2 separate regions of the Homo sapiens genome follow, and region 2 is linked to region 1. The links come from fine-mapping of genetic effects on gene expression. Tissue or cell type: esophagus mucosa. Region 1 holds a variant in brackets; the other region holds the start of a gene. All regions are shown on one strand. Distances are from middle to middle.

Region 1 (8,106 bases):
TTTATTTAATATTTCTCTAACAGTGATCAGGCCATTTTTATCTTTGGCCCAGACATTGCCTTTGAGTTCCTAATTATATATCCAGCTGCTTACTTGATATTTAATTTTGAATGTCTTGAGAACACCCCAAAACCAACATGTCCAAGTATATACAATCGTCGTAAGCACAATGTGACTATATTCTCTATTTTAATGGTACCACCAGCCATCCAGTTTCAAAAGTTAGAAACCCAAGACTCATCTAATCACCACTTATCAATTTACCCCCAATATCTCTCATGTGTTCAATTTTCTACATCTCTATCAATACCAGCTTAGGCCAACCTACCATTATTTCTGGCCTGGGCTATGGCTATGGCCATGGCCTTCTAATTGGTCTCCCCATCATTCTGGACTCTCTCCCTGTGCAGTCAGTGTTGGCTTCTCAAATGGCACTGAGACCATGTCATCATGCCCCTGTTTAAAAGTTTTAGTTTAAAAAATTGTAACCTTTAACATGGCATCCAAGGCCCTGCAGGGATATGGCTCTAACCACCCCTTCAGCTTCCCCTCTTCCCTCTTTCTCCATAGTTCCTGGTGCTTCAGCCCAACTCACCTTCATCCAGCTCCTCAGGGATGCTGCCTTTGCCCTTGACATTGCCATCTACCTAGGAGGCTCTTCTACCTCCACTGCCTTCTTCTCCCAGTTGCCTTTAACCCACTTAGCTCCCGCAGGGAAGCCTTTCCACACATGTACTTTTTCTTCAGAAGATTAACTACAGTTGTAATTTCACCTTTATTTATTAGATTTTTTTAAAAATTGGTGCTGTCCCTAACCATACTGTAGGCTCCATAAAGGCAGGAATTGTGTCATTTTTCTTTGTCTCATTAAAACCGCAGAATGTAAGAAGGGATTCAAAATAATGTTGATTTAATAAGTGAATCCGTGAACTGTACAATCACAGTAAACATGCACATACCAATTTAATTAAACAATTTTAGATCATGTATTCCTTTGAGAAGAGATATTCAAATTACACCAAAAACTATAAATCTTCCCCCCAGGAAAGACATATATATGCATAGATATAAAATTTACCAGATATTTCAGGAACTTTGTATGCTGCATGAAACTCTCCTATGGATAATAGTGCATGAAACTAAGTGAAATGTCTTCAATTTTTTTTATCATTTTAAATGACTTTATAATATTCAATGGTCCAGATTTTGCTTAAGATTCTCTAGTTTTCCCTCCTTTGGTTTCAAGTTTATTATCCAACTTACTCAGTTTTCTCTTAATTTCAAAAACTATATATTTTTTACTTCAAATGTCTGTTTTTTTTTTTTCCAAATGAACATTTCAAACATTCACTCCTATTATTACCTTGATTTCTCTTTGAATATTTTCAGCATGTTTATGTTAAAATCTCTTGGATTCTTTCATTACCTTCAGTTCTGGAGATGACGGATCCCTTGTTTGTTTCATTTGCTGGCCTTCCCTCATGGTGTTTTAGTCTGAGGTTATTTTCCAAAGGGAGGATAACTGCCCTGGGTTGTGGAGGCACATGGGATGGTTCACATATGTATCTTCCTCTCCAGGAACCCCTTGGGTTTCTTATTTTCTCACCAGCGTTTATGTTTCTATGGTAGCTCAGGGTCTCTAATGTGCCAGGAGATTTAATATGGACTTAAGCCCATGCAAGGTACAGGCCTGTTCTGATTTCCCCCAGGTCTCCCTTTCCTTTAGCAGCCCAGGAGAAGGTGTGCTTCCTTGCTTCTTCCCTGCAAGGTCTGGACTCCTGTCAGTAGGAAAGCCTAGCACTACTCATCAAGACTGGGCCCAATTCTTCTGTGAATTTCTCAATTTCAGCTCCCATTTAGTGTCCTTGTGTTTTTTTGTTGTTTTTTTTTTAATTTATAACTTGCTGATTTCTTTTTTCATTACTCTTCCATTTGAAGAGATTATGCTTCATAATCCCAGTGCTTTTAGCTGTTTGAAATTAGTTCATAGCATATTAGTCCATTTCACACTGCTATAAAGAACTGCCTGAGACTGGGTAATTTATAAATATAAAAGCATTAATTGGCTCAGAGTTCTGCATGGGTTGGGGGGCCTCAGGAAACTTACAATCACGGTGGAAGGGGAAGCAGGCACATCTTACCTGGCGGCAGGCGAGAGAGAGAGAGAAAAGGAGGAACTGTCAAACGCCAATAAAACATTGGATCTCATGAGAACTCACTATCACAAGAACAGCGTGGGGGAAACCACCTCCATGATCCACTCACCCACCACCAGGTCCCTCCCTTGACATGTGGGGATTATGGAGATTAAAATTGGAGATGAGATATGGGTGGGGACATAAAGCCAAACCATATCACATAGATTCCCCTTTCAGCTCAGTCTACTGATTTCTAGGAAGATTAGATTTTATAGATATGCCATAACTTATCTCAGACATTTAACTTGTTTCCCCCAGCTTTTGCTACTAAAAACAACACTTAGAGGAACATCCTTTAGCTAAATCCTTAGACATATCTTTAATCATTGTTTTAGGAAAAACCCCTAGAAGACGAATTGTTGGATCCAAAAGCACATTTGTACGGCCATCGGTATTTGTCACTTACCAACTTGTCTTCCTTTTCATGCAACTCAGGAGTTGCACAGATGCCTATGGTTCCCCTTGCCCTTGTGTCATCTCCTTTTGGCCCCATTAAAACATGCACCAGAGGATCACCTGAGGTCAGGAGTTTGAGACCAGCCTGGCCAACGTGACGAAACCCTGTCTTCACTAAAATACAAAAATTAGCCGGGCTTGGTGGCATGCACCTGTAATCCCAGCTGCTCAGGAGGCTGAGACAGGAGAATCGCTTGAATCCAGAAGGTGGAGGTTGCAGTGAGCAGAGATCACGCCACAGTACTCCAGCCTGGGTGACAGAGCAAGACTCCAGCTCAAAAATAAATAAATAAATAATTAAAAAAAAATGCACCAGGGACTGAAACTGGGGTATGAACAGCACCCAGACCCTGACCAAGCCATAAAAGTGTTTGTAAAGAAGCCACCCGACAAGGCTTAGAGGTGCTACCTAGGCAACCAGAAAACAGGGACCTCTGCCAAATCCACTCTCCCCTCCACAGGCCTCTCTCCAAGCTGTTCTCCTAGTCATTTTCATCACAATTTTGGCAGCTTCTACTTCTTATCAGAAATTTAAGAGCAGATAATTAAATTCAAGTCCCACATTACTAAGCTTTGTTATTTTTGCAAAGTACACATTGTACATTCAGTGGCACACTGCAAAGCATTATCATGAATTATTTAAATGACACCATCCTCGTCACAATAAATGAGCAAAACACATTTTTTCACTGTCTCCTTACATGTTGTTATTTCTCTTCACAGATTTCTTACTTTGCAACATTAACTAAAATGTGATGAGCCCTGCAATGTCATTACTACAAACTACCCTACCTTAGTTCTGCTGATCATGTATTTTTTTTTAATGTGACGGAAGCATTTTTCTTTCTTCTTAAGATTCATTATACTCAAACGTGTCCTTGTAGCAGCATAGAATAGGAACAAATATAAAACATGTATAACCAAGGTTTACTTTTGGAAGTAATTCATATTCAATTCTCCTTTGCTCTGCTGGGATGGAACAATAGATGCTGTGAGGTGGGAAGGTAGTAGACATGAAAATCTAAAGATACTGAGACCCTTCTTTGGAAAGGAGGCCGGAAACATCTCTGTTTTGCCTCTTATTTTATTACTGTATTTTATAATTCCAAGTAAATGAGAGTAAAACTTATCTCAAAGGCTAGCAAAATGATCCTGAAGTCTAACTCAGGCAATGAGGACAGTAATTCATTAGA[A/G]ATTAACTGTTCTTGGCATTGTCACAGTCTTGTTCAGCTTGAATGTTAATCTCTAAGGAAATGACAGTTATTACCTGTGCTTTATTGTTGATACTGACAAGATCCTCAAGTGACACTTCTGTCTGTGGATACTACATGCTACCAGTACAGGCCCGGCTCCATTCTTTGCCCCCGTTTACACACACACACACACACACACACACACACACACACACACACTCTCATTCTCTCTCTCTGTCTCTTTCCTCACAACGGCCTGCCAACAGGTTCATTTTACGCCACTCTGTTTTGTCTCAGGATGTGACAAGGCTACATGGACAGGGATCAAAAAAACAGCAGTGACTTAAGGCCAGGGGAGGAAGAACACAGAAAATAAATCGTTAAAACTTGGAACTGAAGCAAACTTAAAAAAAAAATTTTAGCCACTTAAAAAAAACTTTTCATTTTGCAATAATTTTTAACTTACAGAAAAGTTGCAAGAATAGTACAAATAATGTCTTTATCCCTTTCACCTGGACTTCCTCATTTAGTTAACATTTTAATAGTTATGGCCAGGCGCAGTGGCTCAAGCCTGTAATCCCAGCACTTTGGGAGGCCAAGGCAGGCGGATCGCTTGAGCTTAAGAGTTCAAAACCAACCTGGGCAACATAGTGAAACCACATCTCCATTAAAAATACAAAAAAATTAGCCGGGTATGGTGGTGCATGCCTGGAGTCCCCAGCAATTTGGGAGGCTGAGGTGGGAGGATTGCTTGAGGCCGGGAGGCAGAGGTTGCAGTGAACTGAGATTGCGCCACTGCCCTCCAGCCTGGGTGACAGAGCCAGGCCCTGTCTCAAAAAAAAAAAAAAAAATAGTTAACAGTTTAATAGCTAACATTTTACCATTTTTGCCTTATTATTTAGAATCACTTGAGAGTAAATTACGAACATGATGCCCATTACCTTAAGTGTGTCAATGTGTGTTTCCTAAAACACAAGGACACACTGCTGAAAAATCAAAGTACATCCAGCATTACCAGGAAATCAGCACTGATACAATACTACATCCACCCTGCAGACTCCATTCCCATATTCCTGATTGCTCCAGCAATGTCCTTTATAATCACCCTTTTCCATTTGGTCCAGAATCCAGCCCAGGGTTATCTACTGTATTTAGTTTCCATGTCTCTAGATCTGCCTTCAATGTGGAGCAAATGCTCAGGTTTTCCTTGTCTCTTATGACTTGATACTTTTGAAGAGCACAGGCCTGCTGCTTTGTTGAATGACCCTCGATTTCTGGTTGGGTGATGGTTCCTCAAGATTACGCTCAGGTTATGCCTTCTTGGCAGGAATAGCGCGGAAATGATGCTGTGTTCTCAGTGGATCGCGTCGGGGGGCATAGCATATCAATTTGTCCCATAGCTGGAGATTACATCCCTTGGTTAAGATAGCTAATTAAGTATTTTGTACTTAATTTATATTTAATAAGCAATTTAAAAGTATTTGATTAATTTTAAAGTAATCAAAAACTATTCTATGTAAATATCCTGTTTCTTATCAAGCTTTCACCCACTACTTTTAGCATTCATTAATCTTTTTTTTTTTTTTTTTTGAGATGGAGTTTTGCTCGTCACCCAGGCTGGAGTACAGTGGCGCGATCTCGGCTCACTGCAACCTCCACCTCCCATGTTCAAGCGATTCTCCTGCCTCAGCCTCCTGAGTAGCTGGGATTACAAGCGTACACCACCATGCCCGGCTAACTTTTGTATTTTTAGTAGAGACAGGTTTCACCACATTGGCCAGGCTGGTTTCAAACTCCTGACCTCAGGTGATCCACCCACCTCGGCCTCCCAAAGTGCTGGGATTACAGGCGTGAGCCACTCATTGATGATTCTTACCTGAAGCAATTATTACTATGATGGCCTCCAAGTGGTGATTTCCTGATTTCTTAATTCCTTCTGCTTGTACTAATTGGTGTTCTGTTGTGAGGTAGTTTTCCTTCTCCCCTATTTATTTATTCATTCATGGGTATATTTATATCAGTATGGACTCAGGAACGCCTGTTTTATTCAATAGGCTATATTACATTAATTATATACTTTGATACTCAAATTATTCCATATTTTGCCAGTGGGAGTGACTTTATTAATAAATTAGCTTCTGTATTCTTTTGGTATGTCCATGATTCTTTAAGTACTTCCTTATTTTCTGGTGTCAAAATGTTCCAGACCCATCTTATACTTTCCTTGTCCCTGCCCTGGTATCAGTATACCATTTCTCCAGTAAGCTCTGGTTTGTTTTATTAGGAAACGGAATTGAGAAACCAAGATCTGAGTTTATGGTGTGTTCATTGCTTCTGGGATGTTATTGCTTTTAGGTGCTCTAACATGAAATATATGTACACACGTGTACATATACAGCCATCTGTCTCTGTGTATCATTCATTTATATACATATTTTAAAACATGAGATTTTAGTGATATCTCCAATTTCTCTCCAACTGCATATAGATTAGTCTAGCTTTCCTCCTTTACATACTTGTAGATCCTTTTTCCAAAAGTGAGAAACCTAGCTCCCATAATCTTCATATTTTTCCCAACCCCCTGTAAACAACCAATCTTCCAGCCATTCAGAAGCAATCGTCTCCTTCTCCCCTTCTGCACACGGCTATTGCCCCACTGAGTCTCTCCGCACTCTTCCTGTGGCCACGCCAGGCTGAGCAAACCCTGTTACTGACCCGTAACAGCACACTAGTCTCTTCTATACCTGCTACACATTCAGGAGAAATGACTGGCATTTCAGAATGTGGCCAGCTTTGTGTCAAAAGAAGGATTAAATAAATCGCATAATATAGTGTGTTAGGTCCAGTGGGGAAGAGAATTTGGTCTTATAATACAGGCAGCCACTTAAAAGGAAAAATAAGTTTCTTCTAGAAGCACTGGTCTCAAAAAAAAAAAAAAACAACAATTAAAAAAACCCAAAAACGTCCACACACAAGAAAATCTCAGTGAATATATCTTTGCTTTGAATTTCAACTCCATTAAAAATCTTGAGTTGTTTTAAATTGATAGTGAAAAGGTTTTATAGTCTTTTTCTCTTGAAAATCACATCAAACTAGGTTTACTCCAAGACTGTTTTATTCCTGTGAATTTTAGATATTCTTGTTCTTTGTCTTCCTTTTTAGAATGGATAATTCAAAGTGAATACTTTTTTTTTTTTTTTTGAGACAGAGTCTTACTCTGTTGCCCAGGCTGGAGTGCAGTAGCACGGTCTCGGCTCACTGCAACCTCAGTCTCCTGGGTTCAAGTGATTCTCCTGCCTTGGCCTTCCAAGTAGCTGGGATTACAGGCACGCACCACCATACTCAGCTAATGTTTTGTATTTTTAGTAGAGACAGAGTTTTGCCATGTTGGCTAGGCTGGTCTTGAACCCCTAACCTCAAGTGATCCACCCACCTTGGCCTCCCAAAGTGCCAGGATTACAAGCATGAGCCACGGCACCTGGCCTGAAAATTTTTTAAATCTAGATTTATGTTTTGTTAGGATTTATTTTTTATAGGTAGAACATTGGAGGAAGATCAATGACCAATATTTATGCTGACTTTTTAGTAAATTTTAGACATTAGTGTTCTAAACTAAATTTCTCTTTCTTTTTAGGTTTGTCCAAGACTGGTTTTCAGAAAGGATGCAAGTGGCCAAAGTGGACTTCTCTACAGTGTTACCACGCTTCATTTCTCTATATATCTTTTCCTTTTTGAGTCCGAAAGATTTGTGTGCCGCTGCCCAAGTCAGCTGGCCCTGGAAGTTTTTAACTGAACAGGTTTACTATTTGCCACTTCCTAGTAATAGGGCACAAGTACAGCTGTAATCTGTAATGAGGCTACTGGGGTAGCTCCCGTCCCTGAAGACAATAGCTGAGGGTACCTGATCCATCATTAACTTACCCTTGAGAGAAAAAATGGGGAAAAGTGAAATACAATAATGTATTTCTATAAATAAGGAATATAGACTAGTCCAATAATTCCTGTTACTTAAAAAATCTTTAAATACTCAGTATAATTGTTTAGAAAACATTTTATCTTGGTTAAAGAAGTTCCTTTTTGAGACGGAGTCTCGCTCTGTTGCCCAGGCTGGAGTGCAGTGGCGTGATCTCAGCTCACTACAACCTCCTCCGCCTCCTGGGTTCAAGTGACTCTCCCACCTCAGCCTCCTGAGTAGCTGGGATTACAGGCGCGTGCCACCACGCCCAGCTAATTTTTGTATTTTTAGTAGAGACGGGGTT
Region 2 (8,106 bases), 150 kb after region 1:
ATATTCTGTTATCCCGAAAACACTAGTCCTTGAAAAGGCTCCTACACTTTCCACTTCTGATCACTTTTCTCTGCCTGGAAGCCCTCATAATTCCATTCCCCTCACTCCACCCTAATTTAAAGTCCATCTGAATTAAGTCAAAAAGCCTTTCTTGGTCATACCTCCTTAGCATTTCATAACACTTGGCACCTCTCCTATGGCATACATTATACCTTATGTTATACATGAGCACTCCTATAATTGACAAGATCCTCAAGAGCTTCTTACTCCTCTTCTGATGCCTGCAATGCCTAGCCCAGTGTTAAGTAGAGAACTAAGCATTAGATATGAGCTGCCCCAAATGTTTCCCACTTAGAAAGCAATGGAGGACTGTGTTTTCAGACAATCCCAAACTCCCTTAAGGGAATTAAGCACATATTCTCCTTTTGTCTCATATTTCTATGTCTTAGACCAATTTTTAAGTAAATTGCCTTCAAGATATCTAGACTGCTATTTAGTATACATAACTGTAAGAGTTCTGCTCCAGGGAGTTCCAACTTGTAACTGAACCCTGAATATTTAAGCTCTCTCTTTATGCCAAAAGACAATGGAAATTTATTTTTTGAATGTTAATAAAATTGAGCAAAACATAAAAATAACTTGCACTGAATTAAACATGTTTGAAGTAAAGATTCATTAATGCTAATGTGTCTGTCCTAAAAATTACATTTCAAGTTCTAAAGTCTTTGTGTACCCATTAAAAAGATTGAAAGTTTTATTTCAACTCTTTCTCACCTCAAAGACAAACTAAAATAGAACAGAGAAGGCTTTTCCTTAATTTTATTTAGATCCTAACTTGAAGGTATACTTTGTTATTTCTTCAAAAGGAGCAAAAAGAGTATGATTAATGAGCATGTTCTGACCAGATCTCTAAGTCCTACTCCAAAGCTGTAACAGGAGAGTACCATAGACCACACTACCAGCACCCTTCGTTAGCAGACCACAGGCTTTGTTTTGTATCTCCCTGAGCTAAGAATGGCTTTACATTTTTGTGTTTTGTAAACACAAGAAGAAGAATATGCAACAGAGAGCATATGTGGCCAGCAAAGCCCAAAATATTTACTATTTGTCCCTTTTCAACAGGATGAATTTGGGACTCCTCGTTGCCCTTCACTGGCACGTAAGACATCCCACCTTTAAAAAAGCAATGTAAAACACAAGACCATTTAAAAAGATCGAACTCGTTCAACTTAGTCATAGTTAATGCAGACTTAACTTCTAAAACAGAGACCTGTGTGTGGACATTTTTATTCTTCACAGAATTTTTGTTGGAAGAAACTTGCCTTCATTCTGTGGATGAACATACTTATGCTTGAAAATGGAAAGTGCCTGACCCAAAGTCACACTGCTGGTTAACAGCAGAGTAGGGTCAAGGACCCAGCCTTCAAAACCCTGGTCCAATGCTTTGCAGTCCACTACATACACCTATACATGTGGCTTTAAATTTTGGAGATGTGGATAACTAGCTTGGATCAATATAAAAGATGAAAGCTTAAAACCTGTTCCTAACATACTGTTTAGACAGACTCCTACTAGCAGCTATGAATCATTAAACAGAGTAGCATTAATGCTCACCACATACATTAGATAAGAACTTCTAGGAAGTCCTCTGTTTCAAAAGCAGATATGATAAAAAAAGGCTTTAAACCTACAGGGTTTGCTCCTCCAGGGCTTCAGATTAGGGCAAATAACGCACTTCTGCCTACCAGCTGTTCAATACTCATCTCCCAACCCAAATCCACAAGTTCCACAAATGCTTTCGAATGCCTGTTGAAAAACATTGTTCAGTCTCATCACATACACACGTTCTACAGATAATTACAACTTCTTGTATGCCTACTTGTAAAACTACTAAGTAGTTCACATTTTAAAAAATTTCCCTAAGAATTTTGCTTCCTTTAAAAAAACTGCTTCTTCGATTCCTAAATCTATAGAACTCACTTTATCACGTCTTCTCGGTTAATCCAAGAATTAAAAAAACCATTTTGCCCATACTGATAACTTTACTACTCTGCAGGATCCGAAAAGCTCTCTATATGCCAGGTTCTAGGATTCACACACATTAACAACCTAAGATCCTTCAAGTGAGATAGCTCTTGCAGTACAGAGCACAGATTCTCAGGGTCGTGGGGGATACCGGCTGAGGCTCTTCAGACCCCCACCACAGGAGTTCCGTCCTCTAAGGGCAACCCCCTCCCCCTTGGCCGCGGCGCGAGTCCAGGCCTCCCGGGCACCTGCGGCCCCTGCCCGCTGCGGGGACCCCCCGAGGAACCAGCCCCCCGCCGGGCCCCAAGGAATCGGCGCCCACTCCCACTCCTGGAGGCCAGTGACTGCAGGCCTAAGCCGCCCGCCGGCCCCGGGACGCGACGTTACCTGTAGGACCACGTCGTTCGGCAGCTGCGCGGCCCGGAACAGCTCCAGCACCCGCCCGTTGACCACCACCTTCTTGGTGCTCTCAATGTCGCAGTAGGAGAAGAGATCTGAATAGTATTTCTGCTCCGCATCGCTCAGCGTTAAGCCTTCCATCTTCGCCTCCGGCTCACGGCCGCCCCGCCCCGCATGCACTACTCGGGGCCCGGCCCCAGGAACCTGGGCCGGCAGGGGCTGCGCGTGGCCCGGCCTCCTGCTAGCTTCCCGAAAACGCCGGCCCCGGCCTCACACGCGCCAGGTGCGCCCGAGCAACAGGGCCCGGAGGTCGCGAGGAGGGGGCCCGGCTGCGCTCGCCGCGCCGCTGCCTGCGAGGCCCGGCGCGCGGCTGCGGCTGCGGCTGCGACTACGGCTCCGGCTCCGGCTCCGGCTCCGGCCGCGGGGAGGGTGCAGAGAAAGAGGCGGGGGCCGCGGAGGCGCGAGGCACTGGCGGACTCCGCCCCCGCCGCGGGTTCGAGTCTCCCCGGCTCCCTGCCGATTCCCCCAGACTTCCCGCCTCGGCTTCCCCTTCCGTCCACGCCTCCGGAGCGGCAGCGCTTCCCGGAAAGTTGTGGGGCTTCGAACCTAAAGTTTCGGGGGATCTGGGCTGAGCGTGGCCGCCGCTCCGCCTCCCTCCGCCGCCATTTACAGTGCCCCGGCCCGGCCCCGACGCGCCCGCACCAACAGTGACAGCGGCGGCCGCGCTCCAGACCCGGATGTGAGGCCGGGAGGAGAGAGCGCGAGAGGGAGAGAGAAACACCCACCGGGCTGGCTTGGCCGCTCCCGGGAGAGGGAGGAGGCCGCAGCGCCCCCTGGTGGCCGGCGCCCGGCGGCGGGATGACCGAGCCGCCCTCTGCGCGGAGATCTCAGCAGCAAGACCCCCGGAAAGGGGGGTGCAGTGGGAAACAGCCGGCAGCTCATTAAGACCGAGATAACTAAGATCCGGGTTGCAGTTTTTATGTTTCGCAGTTTCTGGTCCTAAGCGTCTGAATAATTGGATTGAAAGGGGAGCCTTGTTCAGGTTATTATCATTCTATCTGTACCTTTTCGGTACAGATGAAGATAAATGCAGTATTTCCATCTGTTCTGAAGGGCTATGAACATCCGGGCTATGAACATCCTGGCTATCCGGGAAGCCTCCACGTAGACACCAACATTGAGGCTTCATCTCACTCGTGCTTCAAGCCATGTTTACCTGAGAAACAAAATGTGCTGAATAGAGGGGAAAACTGGCAAAGTTGTCCTCTTTGTTCACCAGGTCATTCCGGTCACTGGGAACTTAATACTCTACATTTATACCTTCAACTCTATCAACTCATGTAGGCCCGGGGCTGCCCACAGGGGCTGCCTTCCGTATTTTCTCCTTTATGAAAATCATGGAGTGGCGCTCTTTTAATCTGCACCTGTCCCAGAGAGGGGATTCTTCAGCTATTTCAAGTAGAATATCTTAAGAATTTATACTTAGCAAATATAAAATACTTCAAAGACGGGAGCTAAGGCAGAATTACCCAGAGTTCTGGTTTTTATTTTGTCTTCTACAAGTTGTTTCCCAGAGTGCGGATCCTATAAATGACACATATGAGGAAATTATTACAGGTTCCCAGTCATTTATCTGTAATTGCAAAATTCAAAGCGCACTGAAAACCCAAAGACTTTTTTTTGTAACCCTTTGGAAGTAAAACCTGCCCTGCCTCATTTGGAGGCAAAATCTAAACTAAGCTTGCATGAAGCTATTTCTAGCCTTTATGGATCCCACTTAGTGTCAATATTTACTCATTTCACTCCAGGTCTTTGTAGAATGTTAATATGTACACAGTCACAGGCATTCTATTATCTTTCTATTTTTTAAGAAAGATAAGGGATTTTAGACCTGTCAATGTCTTCTGACTTGACTAGTAGTATTTGATAAAGGTAAGTATATACTATCCATTAAGCTTATTTCCCATCTCTAAGACTTTCAGTTTGCTACAGCAGCCCCTCATGTGTCCTTTCAGGGCACCTGCAGCAAGTGATCAGACCCCCCCCAGACAGCTGCCTTCCAAAGGTGTAAACAGAAAGAGCACAATGGGGTAGGGATTGGCTCACAATTGTCTTTGCATCTTTTTCTCTGCCACCTCTCCTAGGCCTTGCAGCTCTTGTCGGCCCCAGGGCCTTTGTTCCTGCCATCTAAAATAGTCCTTCCACAAACCATGGCATGGCGTATTCTCTCATATGGTTTCAGGTCCCTGCTCATATGTCACCTCCTCAGAGCAGCCTTCCTGCAACAGCTGCTGTAAAATAATCCCACCATGCACTATCCCCTTATCTGAATTCCTTTTTTTTCTCTTTTGAGACAGAGTCTCCCACTGTCACCCAGGCTGGAGTGCAGTGGCATAATCTTGGCTCACTGTAGCTTCGACCTCCCAGGCTCAGGTGATTCTCCCACCTCAGCCTCCCAGGTAGCTGGGACCACAGGCCCAGGCCACCATGCCCACCTAAATTTTGTGTATGTGGCTTTTGTAGAGACAGAGTTTTGCCATGTTACCCAGGCTGGTCTCAAACTCTTGGGCTCACCCACCTCAGCCTCCCAAAGCGCTGGGATTACAGGCATGAGCCACTGCACCCAACCTGAATTCTTTTTCTTTATAACACTTTTCACTATCTGACATTACATATATAGCTGTTACATTTTTAACGGCTAATTATTGAATAATTACTAAGTTTCAGGCATTGTTCTAAAGCTTTACACTAATAACCACATTATTCACAACAACCCTATTAAGTGGTACTACTAGGTTTTTTTTTTTTTTTGACAGATTAGGAAACTGAGGCAAAATGGGTTAAGTATTGTGTAAGTCATGTTGCTATTAAATACCCGGATCTGGGATTCAAACTCCAGGCTGTCTCAACTCTAAAAATCACTACCCTATCTTGCCTGTCTAATTTCTTTGTTAAGTTTGTTATTAAGAAAATATTTCTTCACCAGGCATGGTGGCTTATGCCTGTAATCCCAGCACTTTGGGAGGCTGAGGTGGGTGGATTGCTTGAGCTAAGGAGTTCAAGACCAGGCTGGGTAACACGGTGAAACACCATCTCCACCAAAAATACAAAAATAGCCAGGCATGATGGTGTGCACCTGTGGTCCCAACTACTCGGGAGGCTGAGGTGGGAGGATCACTGGAGCCCAGGAGATAGAGGCTGCAGCGAGCAGTGATTGTGCCACTGCACTCCAACCTGGGAGACAGGACGAGACTCTGTATCAAAAAAAAAAAAAAAAAGAAGAAGAAGAAGAAAGAGAGAGAGAAAGAAAGCAAGCAAGCAAGAAAAGAAGGAAAATATTTCTTCATTGCCACAGTGCCAAAGCCCAGTATGTGACACATAATGTGTATCAATAATAATTTGTTGAATGAATGAAAGCATCAATTTTGACATTGATGTGATAAGCCATTCAATACAGTAAGTCCTCAATTAATGTTATTGTGGATAGGTCCGTGGAAACTAATTTTAAGCAAAACAAGGTATTCTAACCAAGTAGTTTAGCTTCAAAAGAAAACTTTTTTCTTTTCTCCTTTCTTGCCAGTCTCAAGCTGTAACCTTGAAACAAACTGTAGAAACCTTTTCTCTTTAGTCTTAAAATATAGCCTTGAAACATACTTTGAAACTCCACTCCCTTCTATTTCCCACAATGTACTCCCTTACCCAATGCACATTTATCTAACTGTATGCTTCTTAAAAATTCCAGGGGCTAATTTAAAATGAACTAGGCACAAAGGCCCAGCTGCAGAATTGTCCCCCACTTAAAGATTGCCTCAAGATAGATAATCTGCAGCCTGGCCACAGGCGAGATGACGCCAGCCTGCATTTTAGATGGACCATAACTCAAGATAGGCGTTGAAGCAAGACACACAGCCCGGGCTCCCGGCACAACTCTTGCATGTTTCCCATATCAAGGTTCCCTTTTTGAAACCTCTGCCTTCAGCCCAGACTTTTGAAGCAGTTTCCAGAGGTGTAAGCTGGCTGTTTCCCCACTGCTAGCTTTGAAAAATAAAGTCACTTTCCTTTCACCCCTTGTTATTGGGTTTGCAAAGGGCAAACAGCCAAGGCTGCACTTGGTTACGGTATCACGAAACCAATTTTATCATAGGCTAATTGATAATTTGCTACAAACAAGAGTTAAGTTGCTGTGACATATTTCTGGTCACAGAATCACCAAATTTCTAAATCGAGACCAAAACACTTCTAATATTAAACATTTAAGTAAAGGTAAGCTACACATGCAACTAAAATGATTAACTAAAAAAAAAATAACTACTTACCCTATTTTTGGTATATTGGTGAGTTACCACGGTTGTCCTGGTGGTGGGTTAAATCAAGGAATAAATGTCTGCAAAGTGAAGTTCAAAATCATCACAAACATGGTGGCTTGCTGAGCTCTCTGGCACCACCTTGTTTACTGTTTTGCATCTGTATGATCATCATATGCTTTACACATTTTTATTTTTCAGTCACTTATATTCATTCATTTTCCTACCTACTTATTCCATTTCGGGGTTGTGGGTAGCAAGAGCCTATCCCAGTGGCTCATGGGACAGGTAGAACCCAGCCCCTGTCTAGGATGTGATTGCATCACAGGGTATACACACACACACACACACACACACACACACACACACACACACATCCACACTCACTCAGACTGGGACCATTTAGACACCCTGACTTATCTAATGTGCACATCTTTGGGATGTGGAGGGACACCTGAGGATTCAGAGAAAACCCACACAGACATAGGGAGAGCATGCAGACTTCACACAGACAGTGGTGCCTACGGGGAATGCATTTATTTTTTCTCATCAATGTTATAATGAAACAATGTTGCTATTGAAGGACCTGTTACCTTCTAATCTCCTCCTAGTTTTGCACCCTTAACCTTAGAAACCTCCAGCACCACTCCTCTTTAGCAACCCAAAGTAATTATAGGATTGCTTCACTTCCAAGTTCTGGAACTCTGAAACTTCTTTCTCAGTCCATAACATGCTGTCCTTTCACTCTCACGTTCCAGTCCTCAAATAAGCATGCACCCTAGGCTGGGCGCGATGGCTCACACCTGTAGTCTCAACGTTTCCGGAGGCTGAGGCAGGTGGGTCACCTGAGGTCAAAAGTTCGAGACCAGCCTGGCCAACATGGCGAAACCCTACCTCTACTAAAATTACAAAAAAAAATTTAGCTGGGCATGGTGGTGTGCGCCTGTAATCCCCACTATTCAGGAGGCTGAGGCAGGAGATTCGCTTGAACCCGGGAGGCAGAGGTTGCAGCAAGCTAAGATCACACCACTGTGCTCCAGCCTGGGTGACAAGGCGAGACTCCGTCTCAAAAAAAAAAAAAAGAACAAACAAACAAAAAATACTTGCTCCTTGATATGGTTTGGCTGTGTTCCCACCCAAAATCTCATCTTGAATTGTAATTTCCATAATTCCCATGTGTTGTGGGAGGAACCCATTGGGAGGTAACAGAACCATGGGGGCGGTTACCCCCATGCTGTCCTCCTGTTAATGAATGAGTTCTCAGCAGATCTGTTGGTTTCATAAGGGGATTTTCCCCTTTTGCTCAGCACTTCTCCTTACTGCCACCATGTGAAGAAGGATGTGTTTGCTTCCCCTTCCGCAAAATTTTCTGAGGCCT

What was found. PIP is the estimated chance that this variant, and not a neighbour inherited with it, causes the effect.
Region 2: REPS1 starts here. The variant in region 1 is fine-mapped to the expression of REPS1 in esophagus mucosa (GTEx, PIP above 0.99).

What each region holds. Positions count from the first base shown.
Region 1 is chr6:138,830,871-138,838,976 of GRCh38, forward strand. ECT2L (epithelial cell transforming 2 like) reads left to right here. Exons shown (of 22, transcript NM_001077706.3): 5 at 7,482-7,644. Among named protein-coding and RNA genes, the nearest start is that of ECT2L, 39 kb to the left of the region's middle. The variant A/G (reference allele first, on the strand shown) is at 3,848.
Region 2 is chr6:138,985,118-138,993,223 of GRCh38, forward strand. REPS1 (RALBP1 associated Eps domain containing 1) reads right to left here and starts at 3,136. Exons shown (of 20, transcript NM_001286611.2): 1 at 2,413-3,136. The coding sequence starts at 2,565. RefSeq lists silencers at 2,638-2,937, 3,128-3,367.